4 linked regions of the Homo sapiens genome follow. The protein of the gene in region 4 purifies or fractionates together with the protein of the main gene of each other region. This does not show direct contact. Each region holds a gene or a part of one and is shown on either strand. Other genes may lie near its edges. The genes, in order: FUT8, LEMD3, ANKMY2 and ADCY9.

Region 1 (6,993 bases), on a different chromosome or scaffold from region 4:
TGTTCTCCAGATGTCTAAAAGGTCCATTTTTTTATTGGAATTATCTCTACTTTAAAAAAAAAAAAAAAAGGAATTATATCTACTTTTGATAAATACCTAGCTTACCACACAATTAATACCTTCGCCCATATAAGATTCTACTTGAAGCTTCGTTTTTGAAATTTTAGGATTGTAGCTATTATAAAAACAAAATTTAAGAACACACAACATGTACAATGGGTCAAGAATACATGCCTTAGATTCTGATGAACAGGACAAGAAGGTTAAGAAAATACTATAACATACTCTAAGTTTGGGGGTACATTTTAGAGATTTTTAAGTGAGAAATCCAATAAATCTTTAAGCATTTAGCTTTCCATTATTGCAGCGCATGAAAAGACTTTTTTAAACTAATTTGTAATACACAATATATTCACTCCACAAATAACTATGTACATATATATGCCCACATCAATTTCCTACTCTTTTAATTAAAAATTTATGTTTCTTTTGGTCATAAAAATCTGGTTTTGGGTGTTTTAAAAGTTCAAACAGCTATTAAGCTATACTTTGCTTTGGCACTAGCTCCCCCTCCAGACCAATGTACTAATATAACAGCATTTTTAAAAATAATAAGTTAACAGTTTTTTCCAATCCACTGGCAAATTTTAAGATTCACCACTTTTAAGGACACTCCAATTGCGTAAAAATAACTGGTAAGAATTTGCAACAAAACAATGCAGGATGTAATCAGAATTAGTTTTGTTTTGTTTTTTTCGATTCCATACATCTTAAACAGAACTGATTTGTAGGAAAACAACTTCAGGTGACTTTTTAAATTCAAAAATATCCTCAAAATATAACCTATATAAGGCCGTACTTTATGGAAATTATTTTGAATCACTATCCTATTACACAAGACACTCTTCAAGTTAACTCACAACTTGACCAAAGATACATTTTTGCATCTGTTTCTGCAATCTATGCAAGTTTCATTCCAGCTGTTCAGCTCTTGAATTCAAATAGAATTCTCAATTTATAAGGCAGCAAAAAGAAAATCCATGTCTTGGAACTACCTTTGTACGTGTCTTATAGCCTATTCATCTCTAACTCCCTGCATTTTTTACACACTAAACCTGTGAAATCACAATTACAAATGCTTGAATTCCCACCTTTTCAATACTACTGTAGTATTTACAAATCAAGTAATTAAGATTTTCTATACACATACCAGATTTCACAAGGACAGCAAGGTACAGGGCCTTATTATTTGGCATAGGGTTTTAAGATGTTTTTACAGTTATTTTAAAGAGCAGAGACTACAACTCCATTATTTCTCATATATCTGATATACTGTAGTGCTTAAATAATAATTTCTCTCCTAAAATACTTTCTATATGATGCACCTATTTAAAGAATTAGTCATAAAACATAGAATGTAAATTTAATCAAGAAAATAAACATGCACCTAACCGCCGGAATAACAAGAAAAAAAAAATCTATAATGAAACCTGCCTACAGTTTTCATAGAGGCAAGCCAGTTAAGTCAGTTACTTGAGATGCGTTTAACTCTAAACTGACACAAAACTTGTGTTGAATTTGTTCCGCAAAACCTTGAAATTTGGGGTTATGTACTACAGAATTTGGCTTTTCTGGGTCCACCTTCCTGAGTGGGTTTAAATAAACTGTGAATAATTAAAACATAGGAAGGAAAAAAACACCACCTGTCCGTGCCTTTAACCAAGGCCTCAATCTATATATTATATGGCAAAATGCTAAAATAAAAGCTCATCCGGGACAAACCCTAAGCATGACACTGCCACTTAAGAAATACACTGCGTCTCTGAAGATTGCAATCCCCACTGTGAAGAAAGAACAGGTGCTGCACCCGACAACCCACTCAATCCTGCAGGACAAACCTCCTAGAACTGATAAATATGGACTCATTTAACCTTCCCAAATAAGTTGATACTCAAAAGCCGCCAGCTCGTCATTTGCACATCAAAAGGGAGTACAGCTGCACTCAAGCCTTTAACTGCCCTGCATCAGTCCCTCGCGGATCTTTGTGAGGGTCCACTCCCTGCTTTCTAGCCCGAGCAGCACTCAGAAAGAGCCCATAACGCACGGGCATCTTCCTCCCCACAAACCGCGACTCCAGGGACCGAGCTGCTGACGAAGGGAAGGTAGGTGTGGAGGGGAAACGACGGACACCTCCCACCCCCGCCCCCAACCCTTCTCCTTCCCTAGGCTTTGGCCCCTGCCCTAGGCAAGGATGCGCGACGCCGAGGGCAGCAGCGGCGCAGCTCCGCGTCCCGGCTGGAGAGGCGGGCGCCCCTCACCCTCTGCCCGCGCCCCCGGGGCTGCGCCAAGGCATCCGCCAGAGCGTCCCGGGGGCTCCCTCCCCACTTTTCCGAGAGCCGCTGGTTAACCGGCAGCAGTTGCAGCAACAGGCCCGGGTGAACGAGCAGGGACAGCCGCGGAGCCTCCTCAGATCCCGCGCGCAGCCCAGCCCAAGACCCCGAGGCGCGCGGGGCCCGGCTCCCAAAACGCCCCCTTACCCCAGGCGGGAGCAGAGGCGGTCTCCGCCGCTCCCCGTCGCAGCTGCCAAAGCCACAGCCCTCAGCCGCAGCTGCCCCACGATGGGGGAGTGGGAAGGGTGGCTGAGTGGAGGATGCTACTCCCGACCGAACGGAGAGGAAGAAACGGAAACAGGAACCGCCGCCGCCGCTTAACGGAGCCTTCGGCGCCACTGACTGAGGCAGAGCGCGAGGCGGCGCGAGCCGGGCAGTCGCTGACAGCGCGAGACCGAGAGCGAGCTGGGTCCAGGGCGCGCGACCCTGAGCAGTGCCGGCCCCATTCCGCGGGGAGACGAAGGGACGGGTCGGCTGGGGCCAGGCGGCGGGGGTGGGATGGGGAGGGGGCCTGGAGAGGAGGGAACCGGCTGCTCGGGTCGGCCGGAGATAACGCGCGCACGCGCCGGAGCGGCTCTGACAACGAGCGCAGGCGGGGAAGCCTCGGCCAGCGCCGGCGTGCGCGCGCGAATGGGGGAGCGCGCCCCTCGGCGTTCCTGGCTTCTGGGAGAGGGCGCGCATGCGCCGGCCGCTGCCACCTACGGCGACCCTGGCATGTGCCAGGGATTCTCCCCGCCCCCTTCCTCGCTGCGCCGGTGGAGAGCGTAGCAGCAGCATCCACCGCCTAGCAGAGCCGCGGGCCACAGCGGGACGGCACAGTTCCAGCAGGGCAGCGGCTGCGCACGCCGGCTCCGGCTCGCACACAGGCGTAGGCCGCCCTCTACCGCCTGAAGGCCGGAGGCTGAGCGGGGCGCGAGCGGATCCTGGATCCCGGGAGGAGACTCGCCTCCAGAGAATGCTGTGCTCCCTACAGCGCCGGGAATGGACCGGCCCGTGCCAGCTCAGTCGGCGGCCCTAGGGGGCACCCGCACTAGAGGTTTTGAAGCTGGCTCCTTGCTACTTTTAGGGGTGCGCGCTGCTGCTGCTCAGCCCCTGCAGCCCGCATTTGGCCGCTTGACTGCTGCTTCCAGCGCGATCCTACAATGGCATCGCTCCCCCAGGAGACTCAGCGAAGCCCTACTTTATCTTGTAAGAGCTGTTTCCACATTCACTCGAAGAGAAAGACCCCCCCCACGAGGGCCTGAGTTCGATGCCCGGCCTCTCCCGACCCGCGGCTGCGACAGCCCCTCTGAGGCGGAAGTTTATTTAGTACGGGAAAGAGAACAGCACGGGGAGAGGGGAGAGGCTTTGCCCTAGGATGCGTCCTACCCGCTCGGACTCGGAAAATTCCCGGCGCCCGCGATGCAGAGCAGTGGACCGAAGGGCTGCCCCAGAGCAGCCCAGACCGCCAGCTGAGCGGGAGGACCGGAGCGCGCCGCCCCAGCACACAAAGTAGTCGCGGGACGAGGGGTGCCGCCGAGGCCAATCAGAGCTGCGCGCCGCGTGAGTGGAGTGCGAGCCGGCCAATCAGAGGGCCGGAAGATGAGCTTCCCGTTCCAAACTCTTCCCTGTAGCCTTGGGACCCAGATCCCAAGCCTGGGGCGCTTTACGGTGGGAGAGCGAAATGGTGCCCTTAAGACAAGAATCATTTCTCTAGGCTTGGGCATTTTAAAGTACATACCGGGGATACTTATCCCAAAGCAAGTAGCGGCGGCCTTTTAGATGTTAAATATTAAAAGATCACAGAAAGGAGATTTAAGAGGCAGTGGCCTGTCAAGGTTGCAATCTGCCTAATATTCATAAATTCACATATTTATTGAGACCTTCTTATGTACCAGGAACTCTATCACAGATACACAAATAAGGTACTGCTGATTCAAAAGAAAATCCCTTGTCCTCAAGCAGCTCAGGTTGTGAGGGAGGCTTTCCTAGACCTTGAGACTCGTATTTATTGTCAGCTCTTTAAACAAAAAGCACTCTATGAAGTGCTGTACTTTACAGTCGTTTTTATGATTATCTCCCTGTGAGAAAAGAAAATTGAAAGGAAAGTAGAGTGACTTGTCCAAGATCACACAGAAGATGTACTAGCAGAGCCAGAATTATGTTCTAGCTCAGTTTGGGTGTCATCATTCAATAAAATAATTCAATAACAATTTGTAAATGCATGGATGCTCTCTCCCATGAGATTTCTGTACTAAACGTATAAGCAGGACAAAATTCTGGTATAAAAGTGACACACTTTGGTTGTTGGAAATGAACACAAATTTTAGACTTATGTGGGATTAAAGGTAAAAATCTTACCAGTCATACTTTAGATAATTTTTAGAAGTCAGAGGTGGGGTGGATATTTACTTCTTAGTTTAAACACAGCATTTTAAAAATATTTTAACAAGCAAGCGTAACTTTTTTTTTTTAAGATAGAAGAAGCAGGAAGGATCACTTAAGCCCAAGAGTTCCAGGCTGCAGTGCCACATCGTGCCTGTCAGTAGCCACTTCAGCCTGGGCAACATAGCAAGACCCTCATGTCTAAAATTAAAAATAAAATTTAAAAAAAAGAACTACTTCTAGTTGGTTAATAATCATGATAGTTTACACTGTATAATACTTTGAGATACCCAAGTACAAAGCTTTACATTTGCCTAAAAATTCCATTTTTGTCTGGTGTTCCATTTTTACTTCCAAAATCCTAGGAATTAAAGCACTTATTTTCCCTACCTCCTTCCAACTGAAAAAAAAAAAAAAAAAAACCTGTCCTAGGAATGTTTTGCCCAGGATTTGGTGCATTTGTATAGAACAGTATAATATACGTTAAAATAACAAATAACTTTGGTATCTCTTGAATACACTCAGAAACTAATTCTTCAGTGGTTTTGAAGTCTGCTTTGTTGAATCAATGTGCTTCTCCACCTGTGATGGAACATTATTATCAAAACCCTTTCCAAGGCAGGCTCAGGATTTAGCTGCCATCCCAAAACTGGAGGTCTCTGTCAAACAACTGATATTTGAGAACAAGTCTTTACACATTAAGTTCCAAGCCAATCATGAATTTCCAGGAAATTCACTTATGAAAGGGAATTTTATACCCTGCCTCTTCTCAGTGTGGATAACAGTCCCAGCTTTTAAAAAATACATTTATTTTACTCTCTCCAGACAAGAAAATTCCTAGAACTCAGTCGTTCTCTTGCCAGGTTAAATTCTGAGAGAGAAGGAATCCCCCAAAAGGTTCTAAACATCACTGGCCATCAGAAAGTATCTGTGTCAAAAGCATTTTTCCACAAGCTGCAGGTCCCACCCTGTTGCTGCGCTCTCTCATTCTCTTCTCCCAACTGCTTGCCTCTGCTGCTCATCACTGCCAGTTTGTAATAGTTGCTTAAGTAAGTACAGGTACTCCACCTCTTACTCCACCCCTCCCTCACCAAACTAGGTTTTGGACCCATCTTTGCTTATCCCAAAAGTTAAAGACAAGTTCTGTTCAACAAAAGATTAGACAGAACAATCGTTATGATCTGTTATACAACAAGTAACAGGGCCTTGTCAGTGCATTGTTTTCTTGTATATAGCCTCGGTCAAATTCTTAACCATCAGCTAGAGCTATGGGGACTCGGGTGTCCCGGGGCAAGAAGGAGTCAACCCTTAGACTATGGAAAAGATCAAAATGAAAGTTAAAGTGAGTACATGAGTGGCCATTTTATTGAGAGATTAGCTAGATCAAAGTTAATGAACGTGAATGCTATCACATTTCCTAAGTTGTGAACATTCATGTAGAAACTGGTTTGAAATTTACTACCATTTTATTATGACTGTAATAAAAATAATAGCCAAAGTGTAATAGTGCTGAGCACCAGGCCTCATGCAAAACTCTTTACCTCCACCATTTAATTCTCAAATCAAACCTTTGAGGTGGATCCTGTTATTACGGTGGGGAGATCTGTGGAGTTCCAGCAAGGGGTTGAGGCACTCAGAAGGCTTAGCATAAGCTACTTACCAAATAGTTTAGAAATTTTTCTATCTCTACCAACGTGTACCAACTGACTGTCAGCCATGGAAGCATTCTGAATAATTGTTAATTGTTCTCGTTGTTTTATAATTGTTGCTCTAGCTACATTTCACTTACAGGATCCGATTTTCCAGGAAGTCATCCAAAGGGCAGCATTGTTATTGCCAAGAGCAAGAAGGGGTGACCTTGAGATAATCATTTTACCCATCTGGGCCTCAGTTTTCTCATTTGTAAAATAAAAGGGTTGGACTAGGTAAGTTTTAGTTGTTCGTCAGTTCTAAAACTATAAATCTAGCCAACTTGACACACCATTGACAATAACTACAAAAATGAAATATAGGGAAAAAAAGTCTATATTTTCATTTTTATTTTTTAGAGACAAGGTCGCAGAATGTTGCCAAGGCTCGTCTTGAACTCCTGGCCTCAAGCTGTACTCTTGCCTCAGCCTCCTGAGTAGCTAAGAATCTATATTTTCAAATTCAATGTGTTTTAAGTCACTTTTGAGCCAGCTCCTTAAACAAACTCTATACCTACTCATTAAAAAGCCAGAGCAAATCTTTCCCATTA
Region 2 (7,028 bases), on a different chromosome or scaffold from region 4:
TAAATTTATCTCTCTTAGCAAGTGACATAATCTTATACATAGAAAGCCCTAAAGATTTCACCAAAAAAATCTTGTTATTTGGCTGGGTGTGGTGGCTCATGCTTGTAATCCGTGCTTTAGGAGGCCAAGGCAGGAGGATAACTTGAGCCCAGGAGTTTGAGACCAGCCTGGGCAACATAGCAAGGCCCCTATCTCTACTAAAAAGAATCTTGTTAGAATAAACAAATTCAGCTAAGTTGGAAGATATAAAATCAATATACAAAAATCAGTTACATTTCTATACACTAACAACAATCTGAAAAGGAGGTTAAGAAAATAATCCCATTTATAATAGCATTAGAAAGATTTAGATACTTAGGAATAAACTTAACCAGGGAGGTGAAAGACTTATACACTGAAAACTACAAAAAAAAAAAAAAAAGCTGAATGAAATAAAAGACACAAATAAATAGAAAGACATCTCATGTTCGTGAATTGGAAGACTTAATATTACTCAAATTACTATACCACCGAAGGCAATACAGCAATACAAAATCCCAATAGCATTTTTTGCAGAAATAGAAGACATAATCCTAATATCCATATGGAACCACAAAGGCCTCACACTGACTTTAAAACATATGACAAAACTATAGTAATCAAAACAGTATAGTACTAGCATAATAATAGACATAAATGGACCAGTGGAACAAAATAGAGAACCAGAAATAAAGCCACTGATGTATGATCCAACAATCTTCTACAAGGGTGCCAGACTACACAATGGAGAAATGACAATCTCTTCAATAAATGGTGCTAGGAAAACTGGATTTCCACATGCAACAGAATCAAACTGGACCTTTATCTTATACCGTACACAAAAATCAACTCCAAATGGATTAAAGACTTAAATGTAAGACCTGAAACTATATAACTTCTTGAAGAAAACATAGAAGAAAAGCTTCTTGACGTTGATATGGGCAATAATTTCTTGGACATGACACCAAAAGCATAGGCAACAAAAGCAAAAACAGAAAAGTGGGACTACATCAAACTAAAAAGCATATGTGCAGTAAAAAAAAACAGTGAATACAGTGAAAAAGTAACCTACAGAATGGGAGAAAATATTTGCAAACCATATATCTGACAAGGGGTTAATATGCAAAATGCATAAGAAACCCCCACAATTCAATAACAAAATAAATAACCCAACTTAAAAATCAGCAAAGAACTTGAATAGCACTTCTCCAAAGAAGATATACAAATGGCCAACAGATAAGGTATTATATATATGCTGTATACATGCTATATATACACACAGATGTATATGTATATAAATGGTATATGAAAAGATGCTCAACATCAGTAATCATCAGGGAAACACAAATAAAAACACAGTGAGCTATAAGGCAAATAAGTGTTAAGGATAGGCAGAAACTGGAATCCTACTATACTATTGGAAAGAATGTAAAATGGTACAGTCAATATGAAAACAGTATGGAGGTTCCTCAAAAAATAAAAAGTTGAACTACCATATTATCTATCAATCCCACTTCTAGGTATTTGTCTAACAGAATTAAAAGTAGAGTCTCAAAGAAGTACTTGCATTGCCATGTTCATTGATGAATTATTCACAATAGCCAAGAGGTGGAAACAATCTAAAAGCCCATCAACATGACTGGATAAAGAAAATATATGTATACATACAATGAAATTCTACTCAGCCTTAAAAAATGAAGGAAGTACTGTCATGTTACAATATGGATGAAACTTGAAGATATTATGCTAGGTGAAATAAGCCAGTCACAGGACAAAAATTGCAGGATTCAACTTATATGAGGTATCTGTTAATCACACTGATGGAGGAAGAAAGTAAAATGGTGGTTGCCAGGGATATGGAGCAGAGGAAAACGGGGGCCTGCTGTGCAATGGCTATAGAGTTTCAGTCATACAAGATGAAGAAGTTCTAGAGATTTGCTGTATAAGAATGCACATATAGTTGTACGGTATACTTAAAAATATGTTAACAGATTTCACGTTATATATTTTTTACCACAATTTTAACAAGGGGATGGGAGGCATGAAATTTGTATGGCATGACTTGTCCACGTTCAAATGCCAGCCACCTTCCAGGGATCAACGTTTCCATTTGCAAGAACTCAGATCTTTATGAAATTATCTTTATGGAACTGGACCGACAACAAGCTTTCCTGTATGGTTTTCAAATGCCACTTTCCACTTCTGAGAAATCAGAATGACATTTATCCATCTTTAATCTTTTACTACCTTTCATTAAGATTTTCCAGAAATTATTTACAGTAGTTTAGAAAATTCAACAGCAAGTTCTCTTAGTATTTGGAGAAGAAACTGATGTGGGACAGAAGATTTTAAATAAATGGTTAGATATTTACCTGCTCTCTTACATGCTACTACTCACCTATCTCAATTTCCCTATGACCAATGTTTCTTTGTACCCTTTCCAAATTAATATGCATTCTCTCATAGAGAATGTTCTAAAACAAACTAAAAAAAATTGAACAGGTGGCTCACGCCTATAATCCCAGCACTTTGGGAGGCCAAGGCATGCAGATCACTTGAGGCCAGGAGTTTGAGACCAGCCTGGCCAACATAGTGAAACTCCATCTCTACTAAAAATACAAAAAACATTAGCTGGGCGAGGTGGTGGGTGCCTGTAATTCCAGCTACTCGCGAGGCTGAGGCAGGAGAATCGCTTGAACCCCGGTTGCGAACGTTGCAGTGAGTCGAGATCAGCCATTGCACTCCAGCCTGGGGAACAAGAGCGAAACTGTGTCTCACAAAAAAAAAAAAAAAAAAAAAGTTGAACAATTTTACTTTCTCATAACTGCTCATATTATACCAAACAGCAGGCCCAAGCTTTTAACAGTACAATTAAAATAATCAAACATATGATTCTTACAAGTAGCAATGATTTATATAATTTTTTAAAATATAGCTATTAAAATTCTAATTTCATTGCTTACTTTTAAATACGCAGCTGCCTCTTGAACAGAAAGCGTTCTTTGACTAGAACTGCCACATTCATGATCTCCTGGAAAGATTAGCATATTATTAATTTTGAATCAGTACTCTCTTAAACAGAAGAAAACAAACATAATTAATTCAAATATTTTATACATTATACAATTACAGGTTATATTATTATAATCAGTAAAGAAAGAACATGAACAATATTATTTATAATTTCTAGAAGAAATTCCAGTAAGAATATAAACAAAGAAATTCCAGTAAGAATATAAACAAACAACTACCATTACATTAACCACAACTTTTAAATGCATTTCAGTCCAAACAAGAACTTATCTTCCTCTTATATTCCCAACTAAACTGTAAGCTGGTATAGGAACTATGTCACACTGATGCCTATCCACAGATCTTGGCACACAAGACGCCCTCCAGAAATATGTATTATTCCTAAAAGGGAAAAAATTCAGCATATTCATTGTGCTAACTTAACTTACACATCTATTCTTAAAGCTAATCATTTAAGGGTTCAAATAAGTTTGAATTTATTAATGAATTAAAGTATGTGCATTTTCAGAGTATAACTAATCCTATCTTTAGCAAGGGGTGTGCATGCCTTAAAAACTGTTATAACATAACCAGGTGTGGTAGTATGCATCTGTTGTCCCAATTATTCGGGAAGCAGAGGCGAGAAGACAGCTTGACTCCATAAATTTGAAGCTGCAGTGAGCTGTGATCACCCTACTTCACTCCAGCCTGAGTGACAGAAAAGATCCTGTCTCAAAAAAATCTTAAAAAACAAAAATTGTTATAACAGACCAACAGGGAAATCAGGTACAAGTTTCCACCTATGATCTGGTTTCTACAAAGGGATGTGCTCATATAAATCTTTGGAAAACTACATTTATCTTTTCTTTTAATTGTTGATAAGAAGCGAATTCAGGGCTTTTTCTTTAGACTATAAGTGGTTATTAGAAATAAATTATCCTCATATTGAACTCCAATTGTCATGTTTTCCCTTCCCTGTGTCTTTCAAGTAGTTAAAAAGCTTGTTAACATGAAAGTAGAATAATTAAAGTAAAATCCTTGCCAAATGTTTCTAAAATAAAAGCAGCCATGTTCTCATTTCAGTTTTGTTCAAGTAATCATTTTAATGTCAGTAGCTATAAAAAGGGGAGAAGTACCTATCAGATGAACAAGTCTTGAAAGTTTATTAGTGCATCCTCAGAGATTTAGATCCCATAGATTTAGAGCAGAGGTCTGCAAATTACAGCCCATGGGTCAAATCTGGCCTACTCTGGTTTTTATAAATGAAGTTTTACTGGAATACAGCCAAGCTCATTCACTTATGTAGTATTTATGGCTGCTTTCATGGTATAACATAACTGAGTGGTTGTGACAGAGGCAAACTAACCTACAAAGCCTAAAATATCCACTATCTGACCCTTCACAGAAAAAAAGCTTGTTGACCCTTACTCAAGGGGAAGGAATCTGTATCTTTAAAAGCACATCAGATTATGCTGATTTAGCTGGCCATGAACCATACTTGATAAAACAATGCTACAGAGATAGCTGTAGAAGCTTGTGTTAGCAATATCCCTAGCTAGCATAACTAGCATATACTTAACCTATCTCTGGGTGCTACAGCATACCAAATAAATGTCATTAGCTTGAAGTGTGTGAATGACAATCAAAGCAAAGAAGGCTTTTAGCGATATAATACAGAATTAAAAGCTTAAAAAATTGACCAGAATTAAGAACCCAATGTACAAAACAAAGAGAGATCAGAGGATGGGAAACTGTCAGGATCCTAAATACCTCCATTCAACCAGAGAAGTTCCATATTTACCTATAGGCTGCTACCAATAATCTGGTTTACACAAAAGTTCTGCTACATAGAAAAGTTTGAAAACTGCATTTTTCTTTTCTTATGCCTGCTTACAAGAATCCAAGTCTCTTCTTTCAGATTATATGTTTAAAAAAAAAAAAGAACTAAAAAAAGGTAATAGATAAGCTGCTACTGCAGTTTACATGTGCTAAACTTGATACTAATTAATCTATAATAAATTATTCCCATTTCGGACAAGTTGACTACCTTAGAGCTCTCAAAGAATTACTAAGAGCAGACTATGAGGAAAATGCAATTAATCCGGAGAGAAAATTACAGGAGAATAAATTTACTTTATCAAACAGAATGATACCTATACAACCAACAAAAGAAAATCTGCATTTGTATATTTAATCCAAGATTTTAGTTAATTCACTGCTTACCTAATTCCTCTGATACTTAAGCTTTCCAGATTTTTTGTTACCACTGATGCAATAAAGAAATTTGATCAACTTTATAACTATATTATATATATATATTACCTCTAATACAGATGGCAGGCAGGAAAAAAGCCTTCATTAAATACATATGTAAAAATCAAAAATCACTCTGTATAGGTAATGAAAACTTCTAAAGAAAAATATTTCACAAATATAACACTGGACTTGGAAAAATATTTTCTACTAATAACATGCTACATACATTTTTCAAAACATTTTTAGCAACTATAAAAGTTAAAACAATTACCTGCAAGCTGTGCCAATCGATCATGAAGCTTATATAATGTGTTCATCATAAGAGTTTTTTCACTTTCCTAAAATTAAGAGAAGTTATTATGAAATACCCAATTACAAGAAAAAAAACACCAAATAATTCTTAATCAAAAAAAAAAAAACAGTAAATTTAAAATCACAGAAGCCACATAATCTGAAAGACAAATTCACATTTAAGTAATGGGCACCATATTTTTAAGAAACCTTAATCTAAGACTCTAAATTATTACTCTAAATATTTCACTTTCTGGAGAACGATTTAAAAATTGGCATAAGGTTAGTGCTAAAAAAAAGGTCTCACAGACAATAAACTCCATCAATCACCAAAGCAATGTTCCCAATCCCCCTCTGCACAGTGTATTCTTATGTAAACTGTTCATATGAGACTGTTTTCTTCATCAAGGCTGCCCTTCATGTCTTGTTTTAATCTAACTCAACCACATAAAACTAAGGGAATGAGTACTGGCACGTTGACTGATACTCAGTCCTCTCCTAGGCTCCCAAGGTGCCCCTGTATAAACTTATGAACTGTTAAAATGAAACAAACATTAAATAAACATCTACTAGGAGTTAAGAACTGTTCTCTCAGCAAAGCGAGAGACCCAGTGAACAAGATGGTTCCTGTACTCAAGGGCAAAAAACATATTAAATGTTATACAACTGCAGAGTAATACAGAAGATTCTCTTCCCTCCTTCTTCTGTAAATATAGAAGGAGGGAAGGAGGGAACAGAATTTATGGAACAGAATATTTGAGTTTGATTTAAAAGGAAAAACTAACAGATCAGCATCCTAGGCAATGGGAAAGACCCTGAGCAAGGGCATGAAGGCATGAAAGCATTGGTTATATTTCTTACATAACCAGTAGCCCTTGTTTGATTCTGCAAACTACTAGAAAAGTTGTTTAGTATTAACTACCAGACAGCCTTGGATAGCAAGACAGAGAGTTTGACTTCATTCTGAAAATTTAGCAGGAGAGTAAAACAGACTTGTGCATCAGGAATACTACCCGGGCCAGAATGTACAATGTATAGGCTGGCTCGGAAGCAGAAATAATTGTATGAAAAGAGTCCAGATAGAGAATTATTGCAATGGTACAGCCTAAGTACCTGCCAAGTAGTCTAAAGCAACAAGACCTCCAATTTAAGAGCAATTACGATCAGGAGGGATCGACATAAATGATGGAGGGTAGGGTGGGGAGGGGGTAATAGCTTATTGCACTACCTAAAATAAGTCCATGATTTATCAGGGGGCTCTGTCTTTATTACTTTCTTTCTTCCTGAAGTTTCCAACAAAACAGATTTACTGGATGAACAGATCATGGAGCAAATTGAAGCAAGATATAAAAGACTGGAAAAGTAACATTTATATGTCTAATAACATGCAACCTCATCCATTTATTTTGTGGTGTATGTGCAGGGACAGAAGAGAACATGTTTGCACACTA
Region 3 (7,028 bases), on a different chromosome or scaffold from region 4:
AAGGTCAGCAACCATTTGTGAGTGCTGGAAATCCCACATAACAGGTACTGCTAGTTGCTTCTCTGATATCAATTCTCCCAGCTTCCTCAGTAACAGAAGTGTAATTTTGTTCAGAGGAGGAGTGTTTAGAAAAGCCAAAAAAAAAAATTTTCCTGGACTCCTGTGTAGCTAAGGAAAGTCATGTGACACAGGCAGAGGGCTTCTGGGAGAGCTTATGTTTTCCAGATATAGACCCCTTTGCTCTTCCTGCCTGCCTGGGATAGGAATGTGAGCTGGAGGAGGAACATCAAATGCCTCGTAACCATGAGATCATAAGTATGCATATGAGAACCTACACAGCTAAGGAATATTGGAAGGGAAAGATGAGAAAGTGTTTGGGTCCCCAAACTATTTTTAAGTCACTATGCCAGACCTAGTCTGCCTACCTTTGGGCATCTATGTATATGTGAATACATAAACCCTCATCTATTTAATTCATGGTTGGTTGGGCTTTGATATGTGCTGCCAAGACACATTTGTAATTGACAAATCATAATTTGCTAACTTTATTCTTCCAAAAGCATAAACACTAAATAGCCAACTATATTAAAAAGTATGAGTAAAGAAACTCTTGAAAATAGGGGGAGCACACATGAACAAATTAATGCATGAGCTTTATGAGATGGTCTTTTCTGCTCAGGTCTTTCTTGTTTATTTTATGGCTCAGACTAGGTGAATTCTTAATGTACAAAGGAGCATCTGGAGCCCACTTGAAGCCCTGATGTTCCACACTGAGAATGACATAACAACCCAGAGAGAAGGCACAGAGAAGGGAACCAGATTTGCCAGAGGGAGGGAGGAAGCCATGGATGGGACTGGTCTTAGGATCAATTTCTTGCCTGATAGACAAAAGCTGATCAAGTTTTTGATTGAAACGTATAAAAGCATGAATGGGTATAGATAGGGTAAACAAAAACCTATTCAAAATAGAAAAGGTGGCTGGGCGCAGTGGGTCATGCCTGTAATCCCAGCACTTTGGGAAGCCGAGGTGGGTAGATCACCTGAGTCAGGAGTTCGAGACCAACCTGGTCAACATGGTGAAATCCCATCTCTACTAAAAATACAAAAATTAGCTGGGCGTGGTGGCGCGCACCTATAGTCCCAGCCACTCAGGAGGCTGAAGCAGGAGAATCGCTTGAACCTGGGAAATGGAGGTTGCAGTGAGCTGAGATTGTGCCACTGCACTCCAGCCTAGGCGACAGAAACAGACTCTGTCGCAAAATAGAAAAGGCCAAATAAATTAAAATATATGACAAATGAATAGTAAGTCATTTAAATAACAGATAAAGTTAACAAAATACACTTATATAGTGGGTAAGTATAAATAGGTTGTAAGTATGGACATTTTCTAATCAGAGGCATTAAGGTGGATTATAGGAAGCTGAGGCATACTTTGAGATTGTTACCAGGAACCACAATGAGCCTTCCCATGGCTTATCCCACTACATCCCCACTGCCTGGACACTATCCCCCTAGGTGATCAATTCATACTTGCATCTAGTGTATGACTTTGTGCTGATAATTCATATAGCTACAAGTGTACATGTGTGTACCTATATTACATAGTGGATGTACTTAAAATGTAAGTTTCTACCCTAACCATCTACATTTCAACATAGCGACGTCCTGTTTATGAAACTATGAACCATAATAAGGTAAGAAGAGGATCGTGAGATGGGAAATAAATAAACAGGAACAGGTTTGGCAGGCAAACCTATCTCCACCTTTGTTCCTAAAAATATTCTGAAATAATAAAAATAAATATTAAAGAGAACTTGCCTTTAACAATACAATAGGTGGGAATTAGGTTTTACTGATAGAGTCAACTTAGGTAAGAGGAGCCTTACAATTTCAACAGGAGCAATGCTTCGAACCAGCTGCTGGAGGAGTGTAGCTTCACAGTAAGGAAATTTTCTGATACTTTCTCTAATGATCTTTTCTTGATACACTGGAAAGCCATCAGAAGCTCGGCCTTTTAACAAGCTGAAAGATATTTTTTAAAGCGTAATTGGAGTTGAATCACTAAGCATTCTCTCCTAGTTGAACCCAACAGTTTTTAGTAGTTTCTTCTGTTACTTATGATTTTCTTTGTCTCTTCAAATCATGATGACGGGCTCAGTTCAAATTGCTGTTCAACCTATATGTTAGGCTAGGCCTTATAAGGTTTTCCAGCCCATTAAATGAATATGCAAAGGTGACTACCACCATAAAACACACTAAACACTGTTATCAGATTAGCTAGTTACTTATTACCATGTCAGTTATTTGTACTAAGAATGAAAACTCTCATAGAGCCACACCCTTCAGACTTAGTTCCCTTTTCTAGGTAAGGATGCAAGAGAATTTGATCTCTGGTGGTCAGAGAAGCAGCATAACACACAGCTCTCCAAGATACAGTAACAGAGACACCCTGGATGCCATTACAAACCTAGGGCTGCGACCTAGGGCATAAAATATTCTCAAATTTGGACTTGGGCCACTTTCTCGCGGTGTGATCTTACACATGTTATTTAACCTCTCCAAACCTCAGATTCCTCATCTGTAAATTGCTGGTAACAACAAAAACATCACAGTAAAGGATACAGAACTGAATAATCACTCAATATAAGTATAATATTATTCTCTGTTTGTCAAAGACTAAATGTGAGTCCAACAACAGCAATTGCTGCCAAAATGTTTAATTTTGAAACACATAATAATGAGGCTTCATATTAAAAAAAATATTCACTTGAGTGTATTTTATAAACGACATAGTAAAAAGAGTACCTTTTGATCAAGGTGTCCAGTTTATTCTCTCCATCTTTTAAGAAGTTAATGCATTTCTGAAAGATACAGCTTATGTAATGCATCTTCATAGCCAATACTTCATTCATGTCTCTTTGCTTCATACATTTCTCACAAATCAAATCCATCACTCTGTAGCATTTATTCAGGGCTGCTTCTTCTGTCAGCAGAGGATTCTCATTTACAAGCATCACGATCTAGAGGAAATCCCAGTGTACTCAGGTATTAAAGGAGACACTTGTTCATGTACAAATTAGGTAGTCCATTTAGTTGATTTCAAAAGATTACCAAAGAAAGCCTTCCTTAGGATCATGAAGTTATTATGTTATTTGTTAGAATGCAAATTACCCAGAACTTATAGAACTAATATAGAAAGACCCTGAAATAGTGGAATCTCTTGAACTCTGTATATCAAAGTTATAATGTGATCTTCCATCTACCTACACCACAGTGCCAGTATGCCATTCAAGAGCACATGATTTTACAGTCTCTGTTAAATTCACTTTTACTAAAGATAAACATGACAAATTTGTACATTTTACATAAAGAATCAAATCATTGAGCAATAACCACTTTTAGTTAACATTACTCAGCTCTAGAATTTCATGGCTAGGAGAACTACAATTCTCATTAATTCTTATTAAGCACAAGAAAATGAGATTTTTTCAGAATGAAGTCTAAAAATGAAATATGCTTTACTTTCCAATTAACTATATTTCTCTATGGAAATTTTCCTGAAGATGCTTCCAATCATCTACAGTAATGAGAACAGGTCAAAGAGGAAGCCATAAATAACTTTAAAGGGGAAATATTAGAATGATCAAATCTTACACGTTATGAGTCCCACATTTCCTATGTATGCACAGATTATGCTCAAATTTAGTGTAATATGGAGTATTTTTGTATTAGCTTTGTTGTAGGGTAGATTATTTGAAGTAGGTCTGCAAAGGACTGCTGTAAATATCCATGGTGGCATAACAGTAATGTAAACATGAATGTGAGAGTGGCAGGAGGCAGCCAAATGCCTAGAGAGAATAGGGGTGGGTCCTTGGTGAAGCCCCACTTCCAAGCCAAAGACAGTTTAAAGCCTGAAAGCCAAGCTACAAATTAAATCCTTGAACCGGATTGAGAACTTGTCTTCCTGTTTGACTCAATTTCTTCTGATTGATCCCCACCCTTCACCTATTTTACATACACCTACCCTTTCCTAACTGGTTTTCTACACTGTTGTGCCCACCATTGAGTGGTGTCTTCACTTTAACCTTTTTTACATACTCACAAACCAATCAGCATGCACTCCCCTTTCTGAGTCCATAAAAGGACCTGGACCCAGGCACATGGGGCACTTTCCCGCCTTTGGGTAGGGGAACCACCCTGCACTGCGTCTCCTATTTGCTGAGAGCTTTCCTTTCACTTAATAAATTTTACTCCACTCACTCTCCAGTGTCCACCTGTCTAATTCTTCCTGGTTGTAAGACAAGAACTTGGATCTAGCTGAACTAAGGAGCACAAAGACCACAACAAATGTAACAGGGACACAACTGTATGCACAGAGCAGACAGCCAGTCAGTACTTGCTAACCTACCTGTTACAGCTAAATCAATATCCCAGGGACTATACATGTCAGGGAACAACAGGTAGATTTCCTGAATTAGATTCTTTTCTTTAGGCATGAAAAAAGATCATCTATTAGTAAAGCCCATAGCTAGCCCTCTAATTAGAAATTTAACACAGATTAAATGTCCTTGTAAAATTAAACGAATTTCACTTTTTGACATTTATTAGATTTATACACAATCTAGTGTTTTACAAAAATCCAGCACTTAATAATAAGTTATTAGACTTAATGAAGTAAGTATAATCAGAATCCTTATTGATAACTCTCTCTACCAAAACATACTTTGACAATTTATGGTGGAGAAGAAAAGACTCATTAATTATCTGTTTATACTTCTGCTAATTGTAATCATTTAAAGTTGTTTGATCAGTATTTTTATATATGGCATTTATAATCAACTATAGAATCTTAAACTTACAAGTGAGAATTCTTTCAAAAAATTTCAAACAGAGCCCAGATTAATAATTTTTTGTTTGGAGACATCAGACCTTATCTATGTTTTAATACACAGCACAAATATACACCAAGAAAAATGACAAATAACCACATCATTAACATGCGCTTATTGAAACAACTACATAGCTGCACACAAAAGAATAATATTTGTACTTGTTTCCTTCCTTAATCTCTGCAGCATTATGAAGTAATATATTATAAAGGAAATCCTTTTTATTAATTAATGAGGAGGAGCAAATAAATATATTTCTATTGGCATTAAAAACTAGATAAATTTTTACCATTCAAAGGATTGCTACCTGAGAATATGTTTATGTAGTGGCATTTTGAATTCTTTTTATTTTTTAAATCCTATTTTTAAAAACTGCTAAATCTACAATACTGGGCTTGAAAATCACAATAATCAAAGACATGATTGTTCTGTGCACATCTGCCTCCTGTACACTTAGAGACCCTGCTCTGCTGACATTTTTTTCTGTGATTTTGTTTTTCTCCTAGATAACCTTCATATTCTGGGCATCAGCACAATCCTCCAAATCCCTTTTGAAAACAAATGCATCCTTATTGCTACGGCAGCCACTTAATCTAGACACAAATACAGCTATATTAGGTGCACTGTAATGAAAAGTGAGGTGTGTATTGGGGAGAATTTCCGAGGTTGTTTTAAAAGCTGTTTAACATTACACAGTGGTTATTAGTTTTTAAATAATACTCCATAGGAAATGCCATGCTAGCTTAAAAAGGGGGTAGAGCAATAAAAATGGGCCACAGTAACAAAAGCAACTGGGTGGCTTTTAGATCCCAAGGGTGGATAAAAGAAAAGGTTTCGAGCGAATAGATTGTTTATACCTACAAAAAGCAAGGTCTGGTCTGGAGGAAGGTATATAATAGGATAGCCCCCTTCATACTCCAAAAAATATTATGTAGTCTATTTCAGACTATATACCTTTACAAATTATTGTCTGCATAATTATGCCCTCAATCTAATTTACTTAAAATATATACCTTCAAAGATAACTGAAGGTAGAGTATTAATAATTATTAGGACATTTAACCCTGAAAGACTGGGTTCCAAGTAAACATAAAAAATTATTCCATAAGCCTGGCCAACATGGAGAAACCCCATCTCTACCCAAAATACAAAAATTAGCCAGGCGTGGTGGTGGGCACCTGTAATCCCAGCTACTCAGGAGGCTGAGGCAGGAGAATCGCTTTAACCTGGAAGGCCGAGATCTGTACCACTGCACTCCAGGCTGGGCGACAGAGCAAGACCCTATCTCAAAAAAAAAAAAAAAAAAAATTCCACAAACCCTTACTGCAATCTGAAGAGGCAGAAACATAGATATGAAAGACAGTGAATCAGAAAAGTACAGGGAACTTCTTCAAGTCAGTCTAAGCCAGAATATCCTGTATTGCTCAGGCAGTGGAGGAACAAGAGTCTTACAGAACCACACACATTCTCTACATTGAGAAATACTGTACCCTGACAGAAACCTGTCTCCCCATCCCAGCCAGCCCATGCCTGAGAGAGTGCCATGGACAGAGGTCAATGCTTCTCTTGGGAGTTCTCTTTTCCCTAGGTATGCTGGGAGGGAGAGAAACAGTAACACAGAAGAAAATACATATTTTTTAAAGGTTAAATTCTAAGCCCTCTGTAATCTCCACTAGAAACATGAGTATGCAGTTCACAACTGAATTTGCCCACTTAGTATCACAAGTGTTGCCTCTGGCAGTTCTTCCAGAATATTAAGAAAAACTCTGAGTTTTCTAAAATAAAAATAGCAGATTCCACTCTTCTGTCTGATGGGAAAGGTATCTACTAGTTTGTCATCTCTCTTAAGGGCCTAGAAAATTAATTTGGGTGGAGGAACACACAATGAGTAAATTTGGTTTGTTTCTCAACCTTCAAGTACTCAAGAAAGATGCACAGGGATGCATCAACAAAGTAATAAGATTATACACATTTTGGATCTTATATCTTTGAGTGAGTGTCAGTCTTCAGAAGAGTCACCTTATAAGAACTGTCCACTCATTTTCATGATGCTCAGCAGACTCCACAGATTCTTCTTTCGTAATAAACTTCTGGGGAAATCTATTTTACTACATGATAGTAACGCCTTATGTTAAGGAA
Region 4 (7,028 bases):
GGTGCCTGGCCACTTCCCTTGCCAGTTCCCTTCCTGTTTCAAAAACTCTCATCTCTTCACAAAATTCCCTCCAGGGATGCTAGTTCCTGTTGGAAAAGGTCTTGAGGTGTGTCACAGGCAAAGTACAAATGATATGCCCAGGGCCAGATGGATGACAGGCCCCTAAGCTCAGCTAGTCCAGAGTCAGGAGGGGACCTGCAGAATTCTAATGGTGAATGATTACACTCTTACAGTTTTGGAATTCCAGCAAAAACACCAATACTAAAATCACCAACCAAGACAAAGACGAGACTTACGGCCCACGCAGGCTTCTGCACACTCTGTGCCCAGACATGGACAGATTAATGTGGGTTGGTTGGTTGGTTTTTTTCCAAGATTACTATTCCACAGCAAAGTACATAGGCAACGCTGACCAATATGCAGAAACATAATTACTATCTCACCAAGCTGGCCAGAAGACAAAAATCTTGAAACTTCTTGACTTGCTCTAATTGTTCCTTCTCCATGTTTCCCTTCCTTAGGCATTCTACCTGAAAAGACAGCCCTCCCTTCCTTCTTCATCCCATTGGCAATTCAGCAAACCTTAACCTTCTCTTGCTTTACCAGAGGTTACTTCTACTCGAAAGCTTGTCTTCAGAATTAACAGCTGTGTCCTTGTCACTGTAAGCCAGGTCTCAAAGAGCCTGAACAAATGGTCACTGGGGGCAGCTTGAGTGTCGACTCTACTGCTGTTTTCTGTCTCCCACCCCAGCTGTGGAGGGGAACTGTGTGCCTCATCTCATCTCTGCCATTTGCTATCTGAGAGGCTGTATTTCCACGTGCATAACAGATCCTGCTCAAGAATGCAGGTCAAGGCTGGGCGTGGTGGCTCACGCCTGTAATCCCAGCCCTTTGGGAGGCTGAGGCTGGTGGATCACCTGAGGTCAGGAGTTCAAGACCGGCCTGGCCTACATGGTGAAACCCCATCTCTACTAAAAATACAAAAATTAGCCGGGCGTGGTGGCGCACACCTGTAATCCCAGCTATTTGGGAGGCTGAGGCAGGAGAACCGCTTGAACCTGGGAGGCAGAGGTTGCAGTAAGCTGAGATCACGCCATGGCATTCCAGCCTGGGTGACACAGCCAGACTCTGTCTCAAAAAAAAAAAAAAAAAAAAAAAAAAAAGAATGCAGTGCAGGTCAACACAGAATTTCCAAGCAAGGAGACTGAGCTCTGCTAACGGGTTAGCATCCCAGTGGCAAGGGTTGCAGGCTTAGGTGGGGACAAGCTAACGGGGGAAGGAAGGGGAACACCTGAGCATGCAACTGAACCCCAAACCAACACCTGGCTAGGGTTCTGTCAGCTGGCAGGCCCGTGCTCAGGGTTAATGGGGCGCCCAGATTTCCGGCATGAGACAGGTGTTTGTTTGCAGAGGCTAACGCATACAGAATGCCTCCGTCCACTGTCGGTCTGTCGGCCCACCAGACAGGGTCTACATAGGAACTCCTCTAAGGCAAAGGTCTCGATCACAGAGGTGGCCAACAGGTGACAATCTGCCCAAATGCATACCAGCGGGTCTCCTCCCCAAGTTGCTCCACAAGCATAAAGTTTGGCTGGGGAAAAAAGCTTTTTTAATTTCTGCATCTGACAATGTGATCACTCCCTGGTATTCCCCTCTTCAGAGATATGACCATGGGTGTGGATGAGAGCGGAGGAGCATCTTCATTCTGTCTTCCTAATATTTACACGGGAAAAGAAGATGCCTGTAGATATTTTCTAACAGTTTCATTTTCTGTCTTTGTGACCCTGTATCTATGACAGGAAAAGCCAACAGCTCGAGATAACACGTCTCACCATTTTTTGCTTGTGGCCCAAGGCAGAATACAACAGCCACGGTTCCCTCAGGCCTAGCGGTTTCATCCCAAATGCTGTGGAAGGTCCCTCACCTTAATCAGACCGTTTCTTCATTTTTTTTTTTTTTTTTTTTTTTTTTTTTTGGCGACAAAGTCTCGCCCTATCGCCCAGGCTGGAGTGCAATGGCACGATCTCGGCTCACTGCAAACTCCACCTCCTGGGTTCGAACGATTCTCCTGCCTCAGCTTCCCAAGTGGCTGGGACTAAAGGCGCCTGCGACCACACCCAGCCAATTTTTGCATTTTCAGTAGAGACAGGGTTTCACCATGTTGGTCAGGCTGGTCTCAAACTCCTGACCTCCTGATCTGCCCACCTCGGTCTCCCAAAGTGCTGGGATTACAGGCATGAGCCACCACGCCCGGCCCATTTCTCCATATCTTTAATAACTGTCCCTCACACTTTTTTTTTTTTTTTTGAGACAGGGTCTCATTCTTGTCGCCCAGGCTGGAGTGCAATGGTGCAATCTTGGCTCACTGCAACCTCCGTCTCCCAGGTTCAAGCAATTCTCCTGCCTCAGCATCCCGAGTAGCTGGGATTACAGGTACCTGCCACCACACCTGGTTAATTTTTGTATTTTTAGTAAATATGGGGTTTCACCACGTTGGCCAGGCTGGTCTCAAACTCCTGACCTCAGGTGATCCGCCTACCTCGGCCTCCCAAAGTGTTGAGATTACAGGCATGAGCCACCATGCCTGGCCCCTCACTTTTTAGATTATTTCCAAAATCCTAGCAGTATGCTAAAAATTCCTGCAACCTTCTCCCAGTGACTGGCCACCCTAGATAAGATTTCTCACACTCGTACACCCCATCTGCTGTATCCCCTTCCTGCTTTATGTTTGTTCACAAAACACTTTTTCTATTTTACTTATTTATGGTTTGACTCCCCTGTTGTCCCCTCTATTAGATCTCCCCTATTTGAAGGCCTGGTTTTTGTTTCTTAGAGACAGGGTCTCACTCTGTCGCCCAGGCTGGAATGCAGTGGTGCAATCACGGCTCTCTGCAACCTCGACCTCGTGGGCTCCAGCGATCCTCCTATATTATTGACTTAAAAATTCTTGTCCCCTATTACAAGAGCAGGAATTGTTGTCTGTTTTGTTTACGGCTGTATTGCCAGAACCCAGAACCGTGCCTGGCACGGAGTAAATGATTTGCTGAATGAGTAAGCAAGCCAGGGGTTCCGGGCCTCTGTACTCTGCAAGTCCATCCTGCATTCTCCATTCATACCATAGCAACTTCAAAGGCCCCTCACCCATTCCTGACTCCACATTGTCGCCAAGTCACTTCCAGAAACTTAAAATGCCATTTCCCATTCACATGGTCAAGCCCTTCCCCTCCTGCCAGTCGTTTGTTTAAATCTGGCTTGCAGTCCCATCAAGCTGCTCTTCCTAATGCCACTCAGATCCCATCACCTCCATCACTGCTACTGTAACTTTGGATTGGGCCACCATCACCCCTACCTGGGATTTACTCGACACCTCATTAATCTCTTTCCAACCCACACTCACTAGCTCTGAAAGAGTGAACTTTCTAAAACTGCAAGTCAGATCACCTAAGCCCCCTGTTGAGTGGTTCCCTGACACCTATGGGGTCAAATGCAAACTCCTTCCCACGCTACCCATGGCCTTCCTTGTCCTGATGAACAACTAACAATCGTCCGCCCCCACAGAGAAGCACAGGGCCCAGCCATACCCACCTCTCCGCTCTGCCCTGGTGCTCTTCTGTCCACCTGGAGAGCCACAGCCTGATCTCAGGACCCAGCTCCAGCAGGAGCCCCCTCTAAAGCGCTCCCCACTCCCGAACATACTCCACAACATTTTTAACTGTGAGCTCACGGAGGTTGGGAACTATTAACGCAGGTCAGACGCGCCCCAAAGTGGGGCCGAGCCCAAGAGGGTTCTTGGCTTTGCCCAGGAAATAATTCAAGGGTGAGCCGGTGGCAGGAAAGAAAACACCTTTATTGAAGAGGCAGGCAGTGTTATACGGCTCCATGACTGCTCCTGCAGAGCTGGGCTTTCCCAAAGGCGGAAAGTAGCAGCTCAGGGCAGTTTTGCAATCATACTTATACCTACTTTTTTTTTTTTTTTTTTTTTTTTTTGAGACGCAGTCTCGCCTAGGCTGTCGCCCAGGCTGGAGTGCAGTGGACATGATCACAGCTCACTGCAACCTCCACCTCCTGGGTTCAAGCGATTCTTCTGCCTCAGCCTCCCGAGCACCTGGGATTACAGGCGCACACCACCACACCAGGCTAATTTTTGTATTTTTAGTAGAGACGGGGTTTCACTATATTGGCCACACTGGTCTCCAACTCATGACCACAGGTGATCCACCCGCCTTGGCCTCCCAAAGTGCTGGGATTACAGGCATGAGCCACTGCGCCCAGCCTTACCTTATACCTACTTTTAATTTCCTGTAGAGTAAAGGTAGGCTTAGGCAGACACTTCTAGGAAAAGGGTGGTGGCTTTTGGGTTGTCAGGTCACGGCCATGGAAAGAGGCAGTAACTCCGGGTGTGGCCATGGCGACAGTAAACTAACAAGGCACACTGGTGGGCGTGCCTTGCAGAACGCTGCTTCTGCCCCATCCCTGTATCAGCTAGTCCTCAATTCGGTCTGGCATCTGAACCCCGCCTCTGGAGTCGAGTCCCACCTCCTACCTCACGATCACGGATCCTGCTCCACGATCACGGATCCTGCTCCACATCCACAGTGCCAGGTGCACAGTCAGTGCCAGGGGCACGACACAGATTTCAGAGTGAAGGAATGTGCAGAAATCATGAAACTACCCTTCTGCAAAGCCTGTTCGGATAAATTTGAATGAGAGGAGCTTCCTTCTGTGCTCCCAGGCTAGTTCTAGAAGCCCCTTCTCATTCTATGGATGCCCATTCCTGCAGGGCCGCTACTGGCTGCTTTTTAACCCTGGGATCAGAAAAGGGGGTAAGAGGGAAAGGCTAATACACCCAGTATTGGGGTTTTTTTTGTTTTTGTTGTTGTTGTTTTTTAAGACAGAGTTGCTCTGTCGCCCAGGCTGGTGTGCAGTGGCGCAGCCTCGGCTCACTACAACCTTCTCTTCCCGGGTTCAAACAATTCTCCTGCCTCAGCCTCCCGTAATACCCAATATTGTATAGAGAAAACATCTGCCACCAGCCCAAAGGCAGAGGCTAAAATCGATCTTACATGTAGATAAGCTTAACTATGTGTGTGAAAGGGTCTTCTACAAACTGTGCTGTCATCTCAATTTAGCTTTGTAAGGACAGTTTCCAAAAGGGCCAGGAAGTTGTGTAGACATACTCTATTCCTGGAGTCCTATCCACAAAGGTTTGTAAAATGAGCTCAAGAAAACAAAATCGTGGTCTCAGAGAAAGAGCTAAAGGAAAGAATATCACTTTTAAAAAATCAGCAGCTAAGCTAAGCCTTCTATCTTCCCTACTCCCTACAGTACTAAAACTTTTATAAATATACAATGTACACAAATGTCAAGAAAAGTTAATTTACCAAATTTACACTATTTGAGGTTTAAAAAAAAAAAAACACAAACTCACTCTAGCATTTTTTTTTTTTGGCTCTGTGTCTGAGACCCCTGATCTACAAACTTAAAAATAAAACTACTCATAAATTCACAAAATAGGTATTCAATGACTTGGCAATTTCCAAACATATTTAATAATTACACCCTCTTCATTTTTGAAATTCGAGTAATACAGCATACAAAGTACAGCTTACAAAACGTTCTCATTGTCCTCTGGGCCAACATATTTAATTTAACGTACTGCCGCCCAGCTCCACCGTCCCACAGTCTCCAAGGACAGAGCTCACAACACCTGGGCCCTAAAAATGCCAAGGTGGCAAGCAGGGGGTTACACCCACAGCCCCGTCCACTGACACCTTCAGACTCAAGAGCGAGTGCCACCGCCCTAAACGGAAAGACACTCATCACGGCAGCATCTTTCAAGTGAACAGAAAGTGTAGTTTCTGACCTTGTTAACATAGTCCTTAAAGTGCTCTAGGTTAGGGGAATTCTCGGGTGAAAATAGTTTTCGTCTACATCCATAAAATCTTCAACAGCAAAGTTAGTAAAATAAAGAAAAATCAGAAGAAAGATGATGTTCCCTTGCCAGAGAACAAATACATAAAAGATACAGGAGCTCAGATCACAAGCCAGAGAAAGAGAATGCCAACTGGACACATAGGATGATCTCACACCAACGACCTATGCAGGCCCTACCTCAACCACTGGACGTCTCTGACTGACACTATTACTTCTGCCGTCTCTGATTGAAACTATTACTTCTGCCATCTCTGATTGGAACTATTAATTACTTCTTCCGAGGATTCCCTTTCCTGAGGCTTTTAACTGTTTAAGTATGCAGTGTGTGGGGACCACAAAATACAATACAGCTTCACAAAAGCAGGCTTTTAAAAAAAATCAGTGTTATTTTCTCTACATACTTCCACAACAGATGTTCCCCTCAATCCTGAAGATTTTAGTAAAACATAAGGACTGTTTAAAAAGGAGGAAGTGGGGGAAGAAATGTAGCAGATTACTTAAAATCTTTCTTTTTCGTCCTACTTATTTTAATATCATTTTCCAGATCTCAAAGACTTTTGTCCTATATTAGAAAAAACAAGCAGCCCAGTAAAAACATCAAGAATAGCAGTAAGGAGCTTCAAACCAGGGACCAGGCACCAGATCCAAACCTGAGAGGATGAGGGAGGGGAATACCAGCTCTCCGGCAGGTACGTTTCTCCCTTCCAAATCACCTGGTGGCTGGAGAAGCTCAATATGAAGCTCTTCACTTAAGGCAAATACTATGATAATAAAATATCCTTAAACAAATGATGGCTGAAAGCTGAAAATGCAAACTTTTTTTAAAAAAAAAAAAAGACCTAGATAAAAGACAGTGTGTACTCAGAGGTAAGTAACTCCGTCTAATTCTCCAGAGACCTGCAGGACTGCGCCGACTTCCTATCCCTATTTTGAGGATAAGCAAAGTGAGGCCTAGAGAGGAGAAAGATTTTATTCTCCACGTTTTCGCAAAAAGGGCAGAGAGAAACATTTGGATGGGACTTCAGGGTGACCAAATGAATGCAAAGGCAATTTCCTTAAGTGCTAAACAGTGCTGAATGCTGAAGGGCTCCATA

What was found.
Region 1: the proteins of ADCY9 (region 4) and FUT8 purify together in Homo sapiens (co-immunoprecipitation; 2 studies listed by BioGRID and IntAct, with this or other methods). This does not show direct contact.
Region 2: the proteins of ADCY9 (region 4) and LEMD3 purify together in Homo sapiens (co-immunoprecipitation; 2 studies listed by BioGRID and IntAct, with this or other methods). This does not show direct contact.
Region 3: the proteins of ADCY9 (region 4) and ANKMY2 purify together in Homo sapiens (co-immunoprecipitation; 2 studies listed by BioGRID and IntAct, with this or other methods). This does not show direct contact.

What each region holds. Positions count from the first base shown.
Region 1 is NC_000014.9:65,408,759-65,415,751, reverse strand, and holds the start of FUT8 (alpha-(1,6)-fucosyltransferase), read right to left. Parts: upstream 3,023-6,993; 5' UTR 2,538-3,022; intron 1-2,537. UniProt on the Homo sapiens protein: Catalyzes the addition of fucose in alpha 1-6 linkage to the first GlcNAc residue, next to the peptide chains in N-glycans.
Region 2 is NC_000012.12:65,214,573-65,221,600, reverse strand, and holds part of LEMD3 (inner nuclear membrane protein Man1), read right to left. Parts: intron 5,625-7,028; coding exon 5,558-5,624; intron 3,050-5,557; coding exon 2,982-3,049; intron 1-2,981.
Region 3 is NC_000007.14:16,607,744-16,614,771, forward strand, and holds part of ANKMY2 (ankyrin repeat and MYND domain-containing protein 2), read right to left. Parts: intron 5,530-7,028; exon of another isoform or gene 5,396-5,529; intron 3,021-5,395; coding exon 2,806-3,020; intron 2,023-2,805; coding exon 1,887-2,022; intron 1-1,886. UniProt on the Homo sapiens protein: May be involved in the trafficking of signaling proteins to the cilia.
Region 4 is NC_000016.10:4,106,416-4,113,443, forward strand, and holds part of ADCY9 (adenylate cyclase type 9), read right to left. Parts: intron 1-7,028. UniProt on the Homo sapiens protein: Adenylyl cyclase that catalyzes the formation of the signaling molecule cAMP in response to activation of G protein-coupled receptors.